2 separate regions of the Homo sapiens genome follow, and region 1 is linked to region 2. A link means that fine-mapping ties the variant in region 2 to the plasma level of a protein whose gene starts in the linked region. Region 2 holds a variant in brackets. A gene starts in the other region. All regions are shown on their reverse strands.

Region 1 (5,535 bases), not on the chromosome of region 2:
TTCCATTTAAGTCCTGAGACTGTTTACTACTTGCTGTTCTGTGAATCTTGCCTTCACAACCAGGAACCTTAAACTGTGCCTAACAAAATGTTTGCTCGCTTGCCTTGTTATTCAAAGCAACCAGCAGCATTCTTATCTCCTGGAGCTTATTAGAGATGCAGGATCTCAGGTCCTGACCAAGACCTGTGGAATCAGAATCTACACTTGCACAGGATCCACCAGGGGAGCGACACGCACGTAGTTGTTCGACAGGGGACCAAATTCTGTTTTCCTGCACTGTGGATGCTCTCTTTCCAAAGACCTTCCCTTGAAAAAAGGAAGGTCCCAAATGAATGCATGTGCATATTTCAAGTGTCATTAAGTTTCAGCCTCATTTCTAGTCCAATTATTTACTTAACAACATTATTGACACCTTCTACTTGGTGGGAACTGAGGAAGGGTGCAGCAGGAGGAGGAAAGGAGAAACTATTCTACATGATGTAAGATATGCGACCCTCAAATCAAGGCAGTGCATTATGTGTTCCCTGAGTAGTTTAGACAAAATTTTATAGGAATGCAGATTACAAAAGCACCATTCCTTTCTAGAATAGAGAACACTGTGGAAGAAGTGGTGTTGGTCCTTAAAGAATAGGTGTGTCCCAAGGTCAGAGGTCATCAGGGGAGGGCATGCTCAGCAGAGGGAGAGGCACAAGCAAGACACAGAGACTGGAAATTGCAGTGCATGTTCAGAAAACAGGGTGGCATCCAGTAGAATGGAGTGAAGAGTTGGTGTAGTCTGGGAAATAATGGCAGAGATAGCAAGAAAGGAAGCCTGAGGGAACAGTCATAGAAATTATACCATTTATGTCAGACTGAAAATGTAAGATCTGATGCAGCATATAAATGTAGAGGTAGTTTAGTAAGATTAATTGTGGGAAGAGGAGCAGTATAGTATGAATTTCAGTAAGGAGGTAAGTACTGGAAATATTAAGAAACTGGCATTAAGAATAAACAGAAAATAAGAATGAGAGATACCCTATACATTCTTGGCAAAGACCTGGTTAAGTACTCTTTTCCATCCTTTATTAAAACTAACAAAATCGTAGTGATTTCTTACCTGGGCGAAGAGTACAGTTATAAGCAGCTAAATAGAGAACTCTACTTGGGTTGTTCATATAAAATATTGCTTTGCATTGACCATAAACCTGAAACCAACAAATGCATTTTATGACATAGCGAATGCAACTATGAGCTTTTAAAATACCTCCAAAATTAAAGTCAGACATTTTCTTTTAAAGTAGTTAGAAACTTAAGATCAAATTCTGTGGTTTTGGCTGGGAGGAACTGCAGTTGATGATCAAACTGTTTAACCTTTCCCTAGGACACAGCTAGAATATGTTTCCAAGCCTCCCCAACACGTGTGACTGTGTATAATTGAGTTCTAACCACAGGAAGGTGAGCAGAAGTGAGGTGTAACCATTTCCAGATCTGGCTCATAAGGGTCTCCCACGTTCTCACTGTCCTCTATGCTCTTTCTCTGTGCACAGCTTGATGCAGATGAGCAGGTAACCATGGAAGTCGTGAGCTGAGGCTGCAGAGTCTAGAGCCAGAGTGTGGAATAAACTTGGGTCTCAAATCACCCCTGGAGCAAAGCACCCATCTAATCAGGAACTTCTACTTTCAACTTTACATGCGTGAGAAATGAACTTCTATCATGTTAGAGTGAGTATACAGTTTTTGTGTCTGTGTTTTAGTAGCTAGTGTCACCATAACAAATATAATTCACAACAGGATATTCACTTTTCAAAATCAAGTTGGGTACAGTTTGACCAATTGGCTACATGATTAGGAAAATATCTTGATCAAATAGTTTTCTTCTAAACACTTACATCACTATTCTGTACTCACACTGTAAAGTTTTATATCAATTACTGAAAATCATCCCAGGATAATTAAGAATGAAATGAAATGGATTATCTATTTTCAAGTCTCTTCTATGATCATCTTTAGAAGATTAATTCTGAGGCCCTTTATTATGCTCTGTGGTTTCAGGAAATCCTTACACGGCGCCCTTGAGAGCTTTCATACTGCAAGTCATCCATTTTCCTCCCCTCAAACCTGGCATCGGAGTTTATTGAAACAAAGCAAAATAAAACAAATAGACAAAGCTCTACCTCCATCACTTCTGCAGTCTACATTAACCCCACGTCCAGAATATTCACACCTCAGGTCTTTTTCTCACAATTGAAACACTGGTTCAGAGCCTAACGGAAGGTCTTGGAGGTAAAAACACAACTTGGGGCAACTTTTCCATTCTGTTCTGCATGACCCCAATGGGACTTCTCAGAAACCCCTCTCATGAATTAAACTTTGTTCTGTCTAGAGCATTAGAATAAGCTTATGGGCACCTGCCAGGAGATTATAAAGTGGGCCATTTAAAAGATGACAGATATTGAGCACCCTTGACCCTGTAGAAAGAGTGTACCTACTTGCTTTCCCTAGGGCCCTTAATGGTTTATAAAAACAAGCACTCACTGATTCAAAAAATATCCTCATTCCACAGTCTTGCCATGCCTTCTTTCTGAGCACATGGCAGTCAGTCTCTAGCACATCCAGTGTAAGATAGAACAGAGATCCCAGGCCACCCTGTGGGAAGGGGTAGAGAAATGCAATACATTTCACAGGAAGTAGAAACCTAGAAAGACCACACAAAAAAACCCCTGCTTTATGGCAAAGCCAAAGAATATTTGTGAAGATTCCCCGTAAACCATTAAATCTGACACAAGTGTCAGAGTAGGATCACTGTTAACACTTGTTTTTACTAACAATAAGTGCGTTGTTGCTGACCCTGGCAGAGGAGAACAGAGAGTTCTCGGCAGGGCTTCCAATACAGAAAACACCTGCCAGGGTGTCTCTGGGTTCCCTCACCCTGGCCAGTCTCTCCAGCTTGCCCACATCCCTGCCCCAGAGTGGGAACTGTCCCTACTTGCCCGTCTGTATTCCTGGGCGTCGTTCACTCGGTTGAGTCTCAGCACATAGCCATCCTTTCTGTCTTTGTTAATATCCCGCAGGGCAAAGCCTGCAACTGCCAGCACATCTGAGTCATTGCAGCCCCGGGAGAGCAGAGCCGAGGGGTTGAGGGCCAGCTGGGGTGGAGACATTGCTCCGCAGCACAGGACTAGGATGCAGAGTGCCAGGGGAAGGAGCAGACCCATTCTGTGGAGAACAAGGCCCAGGATGGGTCAGTTTGTGGAGCTGCAGGGACTGGCTGGCTTGTAAGGCTCTTTAAGGCAGACTTGAGCGGTTTTGTTACAACTGGAAGGGCTAACCAAGTTCACCTTGAATTCTGAACTTGGATTTTCCTAAGTCAGTACTTTGGATAGCATTTCCCAATGATTCTAACCTTAGACCCTTGAGCAACCTCATATCCACCTGTACATACAAATGAATTTAAGTTTCCCAACTGTTTCCTGAGAAATCATAACATTTGTTCAAGGCTCTTATGATTAGATTCTGATTTGCAGGTCCCCTCCTGAATAGGAATATGGAGGACTGTCCCATTCTCCCCCTCTCCCCTAACACCTTTGCTGTGGAGGTCTCCTTGGCCACTCTAATAGTTATCTTATGTCCCAGTGGTGCTTGGTGAATTCAGACTTCCTGGCTGACACTCTGTGTGCAAAGCCCTTGTTAGATCAGGGAGGTAGTTGAACCCCACAGTCATCTGCCAGAAGCACAGTTGAGATTCCTTAAGCACTTTGGCCATCTGGGTGGAAAATGTTCTACTTATCATCATTTAAGTTATTTTTAAACAATGACTTTACTTAAGGGGAAAAAGTCAAAGAGATATAAAAAGTTCTCACATTGTATTTCAAGCCTATTCTTCCTTTTATGCATATGTATGGAAGCAAGCTCATTAAGAGACTAAAGCCCCATACTCTTGCTAAAAGAAAGATACTGAAGGGCAGGTGGGTGGCAACACATTGGTTGGGACTCTTGCCTTCTTTTTTTTTTTTTTTTTTTAGCTTCTATTTGTGATTCAGAAAGGTTCTACTTATTGGGACCATACAAAAGACAATTATCTTTTAAAAACTGTATTTCAACAAAAAACACATATCAGCAGTAGTTTGTCATGAGAGAAAAGAGACAAAATGGGAAAGAAGCCTCTAGAAGAGGTTATCATGAAGGGCATTCTATAAAGCCCTAGTCCATGAGGTGAGTAACCACCCCCTAACTCTCTCCCTACTCCTAGCCCTTCTCTTCCTTCCTGTCCCTGTCCAAGGATTCTGCATTCAAATAAGTTTAGGAACTGCTGAATCCTTCTGTGTGCTTGCTGGTACACAGTGGTGGCTATTGTGTAATGCTGAGAGGATTATCCTATCCTGATGAGGGCTCCACCCTCATGAATGGAATATGCCATTATCTTGAAAGTGAGTTCCTGATAAAAGGATGTGTTTGGTCCCCTTCTCTCTTCCTTTCACCTGTGTGATGCCTTCCACCATGTTATGATGTAGCATGAAGGCTCTCAGCAGGTATAGCCCCTCGATCTTAGACTTCCCAGCCCCCCAAACCATGAGCCAAAGTAATTTCTGTTCATTATAAATTCCCTGGTCTCTGATATTCTGTTATAACTACATAAAACTAACTGAGGCACAGCCCTAATTAATTTCTGGAGAGAAATAGTTTTTGAGGATTGATTGAAAAACCCAAATCTAAAGATCCCAGCTCTGTGGATGTGGGCTGTAGGCATTGTTTTCAAATAGGAACGATACTAGCAAAATGGGTACAGAAACCAGACATTCAGATTCTGGGGCACAACAAAGGTTTAGCTTCAGCCAGTGAGGAGACAAACATTCATTGAGCTTGAGCAACGTACAGAAAGAGGTTGAGAAGGATCTGGGGCCTGAGGATGCAGAACAAAGAGGAGGAGAATGGTCTGGGACCTGAGGAATATATTAGACTTATATAGGTGAAGGCCATGAGTGCAACTAAAATAAAAGGCAGGACTCAAACAGATAAAAAGATCCAATAACATGGAAATCGTGCACCACCACTTATGCACCTGGGTTTCAACCCAGTCTCAAACAACCTGAGCTGGCCTTCTCCTAGGCTGTGGAGTATGGGAGCCCTGGGAGAGGAAGCAGGGGAAGAGTCCAGCCTTTGGTGTCAGGCAGTCTTGGGTTTAAATTCCACCTCTTCCACTGCACGGTAAGAGGGCCTGTGACACTGGGTGTGCCACACAGCATTTTGTTTCCTTATTCATAAAACAATGGCACTCCCAGCATATGTATACATGCACAGTTGCACCTGCCTGTAGAAAGAGAATAGAGTTCCTCTTTCCCTAGAAGCCCAACCCAGGTACACTTGTGTTTGGTTCCCATCACATATGGGAACAACTTTAGTATCAGCATGGAAGTTAAATTTCTGCTCAGGAGTGAAGAACAAGGCTGTGGAGATAGATCAATCTAGGTTTTGTTGAATCCAGTGTGTCTAATAGAAATACAATGCAAGTTACATATTTAATTTTAAAATTTCTGGTATCTGCATTCGAAAAGTAAA
Region 2 (5,000 bases):
CATGCGCCACCATACCGGCTAATTTTTCTATTCTTTGTAGAGATGGCTTCTCACTGTGTTGTCCAGTCTGGTTTCAAACTCTTGGGATCAAGCAGTCCTCCCACCTTGGCGTCCAGAAGTGTTAGGAATACAAGTGTGAGCCACCGTGCCCTACGGTGAAAATAATTTATATAATTCCTCATTTCTTAGATTAGTTTTTCTTATTTTGGGAATCATGTTTACTTTTAACAGACTTTTTATTTCTCCTTAGTTTCCCACAGAGCAAAATATGAGATGTTTAACATCCCAAATTTAAAGTTTTTCAGACTTAATGGAATTAATTTTTCCATAATTTCTTTTTCTTTTTAGAGACAGGGTCTCACTCTGTCACCCAGGCTGAGGTGCAGTGGTGCAGTAATAGCTCACGGCAGCCCCAAATTCCTAGGCTCAAGCAATCCTCCTGCCTGAACCCCCTGAGTGGCTAGGACTACAGGCATGTGCTGCCGTGTCTGGCTAATTTTTTTTTTTTTCAACTTTTTTTTCAACTGTGTTGCCCAGGCTGGTCTCAGACGCCTGGGCTCAAGTGATCCTCCTGCCTCATCTTCCCAACGTGCTAGAATTACAGATATGAGCAACTGTGCTTAGCCCCATAATTTCTTTACTCCATAATCTCTTAGAACAGTCGTGAGGCAGGAAAAAAGTTTTGAGTTACAGGCCTTTATCTCTATTTAAATAATTAAGGAAGCGGCTGGCCACGGTGGCTCACGCCTGTAATCCCAGCACTTGGAGGCCAAAGCATGAGGATTACTTGAGGCCAGGAGTTTGAGATGAGCCTGGGTGACATAGTGAGACCCTATTTCTACCAAGAAAAAAAAGAAAAAAAAAAAAGCCGGATGTGGTGGCATGCGCTTGTGGTCCCAGCTACTTGGAAGACTGAAGTGGGATGATTGGTTGAACCTGGGTGGTCGAGGCTGCAGGGAGCTGTGGTCTCGCCACTGCACTTTAGCCTGGGGAACAGAGTGAGACCATGTCTTAAAAAATAATAATAAATAAATAAATAAATAGTATCTTATATGGAATATATGATACTTATATTTAGTGTAGAGAAATAAGTAATGGCAGTGGAAAAGGACCTGTATTTTCATTATGAAGTGAGTATCTTTCACCTCTAAAATTCAGTGATTTCGTAATTAGACAATGTGATAATGTTTTGTCAGTAGGTATATCAGTAACAGTGATATAAGTAGCATGATTTAGCCAGGCGCGGTGGCACTTTGGTAGACCGAGGTGGGTGGATGGCCTGAGCTCTGGAGTTGGAGACCAGCCTGGGCATCATGGTGAAACTTCGTCTCTACAAAAAGTACAAAATTAGCCAGGTGTGGTGGTGCATCCCTGTAGTCCCAGCTACTTGGGATGCTGAGGTGGGAGAATGGCTCGAGCCCAGGAGGTGGAGGTTATAGTGAGCCGAGATTGTGCCACTGTACTCCAGCCTGGGCGACAAAGCCAGACTCTGTCTAAAGAAAAAAAAAAAGACTGGATGGGGTGGCTCACACCTGTAATCCCAGCACTTTGAGAGGCTGAGGAGGGGTGACCACTTGAGGCCAGGAGTTAGTGACCAGCCTGGCCAACATGGTAAAACGCTGTCTCTACTAAAAATACAAAAATTAGCCAGGCAGGGTCGTCCACGCTTGTAGTCTCAGCTACTCTGGAGGCTAAGGCATGAGAATCACTTGAACCCTGGAGGAGGAGGTTGCAGTGAGCCAAGATGGTGCCACTGCACTACAGCCTGGCGAGAGAGTGAGAGTTATGTCTTATCCATTAAAAAAAAAAAAATTAATAGGTAGCATAATTTCTAAATTTCTATGCTCATTATTGAAAGAAATATTTAAAATAAATATGTCAGTGCATTAAATGGGCATTCTGAATAAGTGTGAGCTTGTTGATATTCTTGGGAATCAGATGATCCTGAAATCATGTGATTTTAACAGTGGTGTAGTAATGACCCAGCTATTACTAAATTTATTGATGTCATTGTATTGCCTTGCTTTTTTATTAAAGCGTTTTAAAATAGAGGTGCCAAGATGTTGGTTATATTGTTTAACCTTGGTGGAGCAAAGATCTGGGAATCTAGCTGGATTTGATTCTAGATGCCTCATAAACAGAGCTACACTCAGAATAGAATAGTTAGACATTTGTTAAATATGGAGATGTATTCTTCCCTATTTCAATTTGGATTTTTTTTTTTTTTTTTTTTTTTTTGAGATGGGGTCTTGGTCTGTGTGTCACCCAGGCTGGAAGTGCAGTAGGGCGATCTTGGCTCACTGCAACCTCCACCTCCCAGGTTCGAGGGATTCTCCTGCCTCAGCCTCCCAAGTAGCTGGGACTACAGGTGTATGCCACCACACATGGCTATTTTTTTTGTATTTTTAGTAGAGACGGGGTTTTGCCGTGTTGGCCAGGCAGGTCTCGAACTCCTCACCTCAGGTGATCCACCCGTCTTGGCTTCCCAAAGTGCTGGGATTACTGGTGTGAGCCACTGTGCCCAGCCTAAAATTTACTTTCTTAGCATCAGTTTCTAAGTCTGGCATATAGTGACCAGAGTAGAATTGCATAGCTGGAACTAATGGAGAGGGAGAGAGGTATGGCACTTCTTACAATTTATTGGATTGCTGTAGAAGTAAAATTCAATTCAGGTATTCTAACCTGAATAAACAGCTTCTGAGGTGTCTTAGTCTCTTTGGGCTGCTGCAACAAACTGCCATAGGCTAGATAGCTTATAAACAAAAGAATTTATTTCTCTCATTTCTGGAGGCTGAGAAGTTCTAGATCAAAGCACTGGCAGATTTGGTGTCTGGTGAGGGCCTGCTTCCTGGTTTGTAGACAGCTGTTCTCACATGGCAGTTGGGGGCAAGAGAGCTCTCTGAGGTCTCTTTTATAAGGGCACTAACCCTATTCATGAGGGCTCTGCCTCTTAATACCATCACCTTGGTGGTTAGGATTTAATGTAAGTCTTGGGGTGGAGGGGACATAGACATTTAGTCTGTAGCATGAGATAAAATTTATAAGCTTGTTTAGGATAGGAAACAACAATAATTGAAT[T/G]CCTAAAATCGAGTCCTGGCTCTTCTGGCTTTTGAATCCTTTCCTTCTTGCTCAGCCATTGGTATGTTAGATGTCTTAAAGATTTAAATATGAATATTTAGTTGATATTGAAGGTGAACTGAGTCTGTTTAATTGCATTGTCTTATGCATCTAATATTGATTGAGCATCTGCTATGCTCAATATTTTACATATATGAACATTTATAAACCTCATAAGAGGTAAGTGCTACTCATGGTAGGTGTCTCCTGGTGGTCTTGTTCTTACTTCTTCTTCATTGGACCATATATTCTCATTCAGTTGAGGTTCCTGAGAGATAGGACACACACTATAACAACCAAATTTATACTAAGCTCTTCTTGGCTAGAACTCTATTTGAAATCCCTCTTTGAGCTCCTGTTCTGGTAGGCTGAGCTAAACAATATAGAAACCTCAGAAACTTCTTTTTTCCTTTTCCTTCAAGATCTAGAGCAGAGCAATCCCTGAAGAGCACTTCCTGCTTCCTTTACCCTGTCTACGTAGGAAAGCTGAGATCCTAAGGATAAGAGCTTCTGTCAAATAGGAGACAGCCCTAACTCTTTTTCTGGCCACATACTTAAATCAACATATGACATAGTTTCTAGGCCCCTTATCGTCCTTCATGTTACCTTCTGAGTTTATCTACAGTTTATGCCTTGTAAACTGTCATGCCGAGAACTGAAACAGATATTCCAGATGTGGTCTTAGCATGGTCAGTTCAGAATGGATTCCTTTTATTTTTATTCTGGCTATTGTGCGTGTAATGGAGCCTAAAACTGCATTATGTTGATTTAATCTGAGTAGATTTTGCAATTAATTGATTCAGAGAACATTCAGTCTTCTGTTCAAAGTACATGTATTAAGCATCTATTTTATATTAAGCTGTGAGTTAGGTGTTTTAAATATAAAGATAGATAAGACATGAATGTCAAATTTCTGTTGACTTGGAGTTAGCCTGGACGTTTTTATTCTGGAGAATTGTTAGGGATATTTAAGAAAGCTCCTAGTCACTTCGGAAATCGTGGTATGTGGTTTGTAGGAGACATTCAGCAAATGCTTGTGGAATAAAGGAACGAATCACTGATACCCAAATGGGATGACTTATGAAAAAAAATGGGCTGTATCTTAAGAACTGTCTTTGAGAAACCAATTCATTCTGAAATGTTTAGTTGTAGATATATCAGTATAGCTGACAAAACTAGAATCTACCTACAGCTTTATCCTTTGTAAGTCAGATTTTCTTTCCTAAAAATATTGCTCAGGTGGGGATAAACAGTATCTAGAATGCTAGGAATCAGTTAAGGAATGTTAGAACCATCATAAGGCCAGATAAGACATCTTGACTTAATTGATCTTTTTTCAAAATAGATCCCTAAGTTGCCCTTCATTGTCTATGACTTCAGTAATGGGTTTACATCTTTTTGTTTACTTCATTTTCCTGCATCAAGTTTCAGAGTTCATAGCTAGTGATGGGAAGAAATTTTATGACTCTTTTATCATCATGGTGGAATTGTTCTATCTACCATTATTTTTTTTACAGGAGTGAAATTATAATGAGAGGCCTCCCAAGGTGATAATGCTTGACTACCTGACTTTCTCCCTTCCTTACATTTCTCAAATTGTCAAAATATGGCTCCCCCCTTGCCACTACACACACACATGCACACGCACACACACACGTTCACACATACACTTGCTTAATTGACATGGCTTCTTTATATGTTGCATTTTCAGGGGGAACTTGCTCCACTTTCCAAGTTCTCAAGGAGAAGAGGAGAAAGAAAAATTGGAGGGTGACCATACAATCAGGCAGAGTCAACAGCCTATGAAGCCCATTAGTCCTGTCAAGGACCCTGTTTCTCCTGCTTCCCAGAAGATGGTCATACAAGGGCCATCCAGTCCTCAA

Direction of the effects. Alleles are on the strand shown, and positions count from the first base shown. The strength of an association depends on the size of the effect and on how common the allele is.
For the plasma level of the protein whose gene starts at base 3,256 in region 1, allele G in region 2 goes with a lower level than allele T (moderate association).

Evidence for each region. PIP is the posterior inclusion probability: the model's chance that the variant is causal. Protein levels are from antibody-based Olink assays in UK Biobank. Linkage for the fine-mapping came from a reference panel and not from the study's own genotypes, which makes the PIPs less certain.
Region 1: it holds the start of FETUB, and the variant in region 2 is fine-mapped to the plasma level of the FETUB protein (UK Biobank, PIP 0.94).

The regions. Positions count from the first base shown.
Region 1 is chr3:186,638,120-186,643,654 of GRCh38, reverse strand. FETUB (fetuin B) reads right to left here and starts at 3,256. Exons shown (of 7, transcript NM_014375.3): 1 at 2,970-3,256; 2 at 2,515-2,625; 3 at 1,097-1,184. The coding sequence starts at 3,194. It overlaps HRG-AS1 (HRG and FETUB antisense RNA 1), which reads left to right. Exons shown (of 3, transcript NR_187317.1): 2 at 1,527-1,701; 3 at 2,032-2,146.
Region 2 is chr15:43,432,506-43,437,505 of GRCh38, reverse strand. It overlaps TP53BP1 (tumor protein p53 binding protein 1), which reads left to right. Exons shown (of 28, transcript NM_001141980.3): 17 at 4,829-5,000. Among named protein-coding and RNA genes, the nearest start is that of TP53BP1, 58 kb to the left of the region's middle. The variant T/G (reference allele first, on the strand shown) is at 3,079.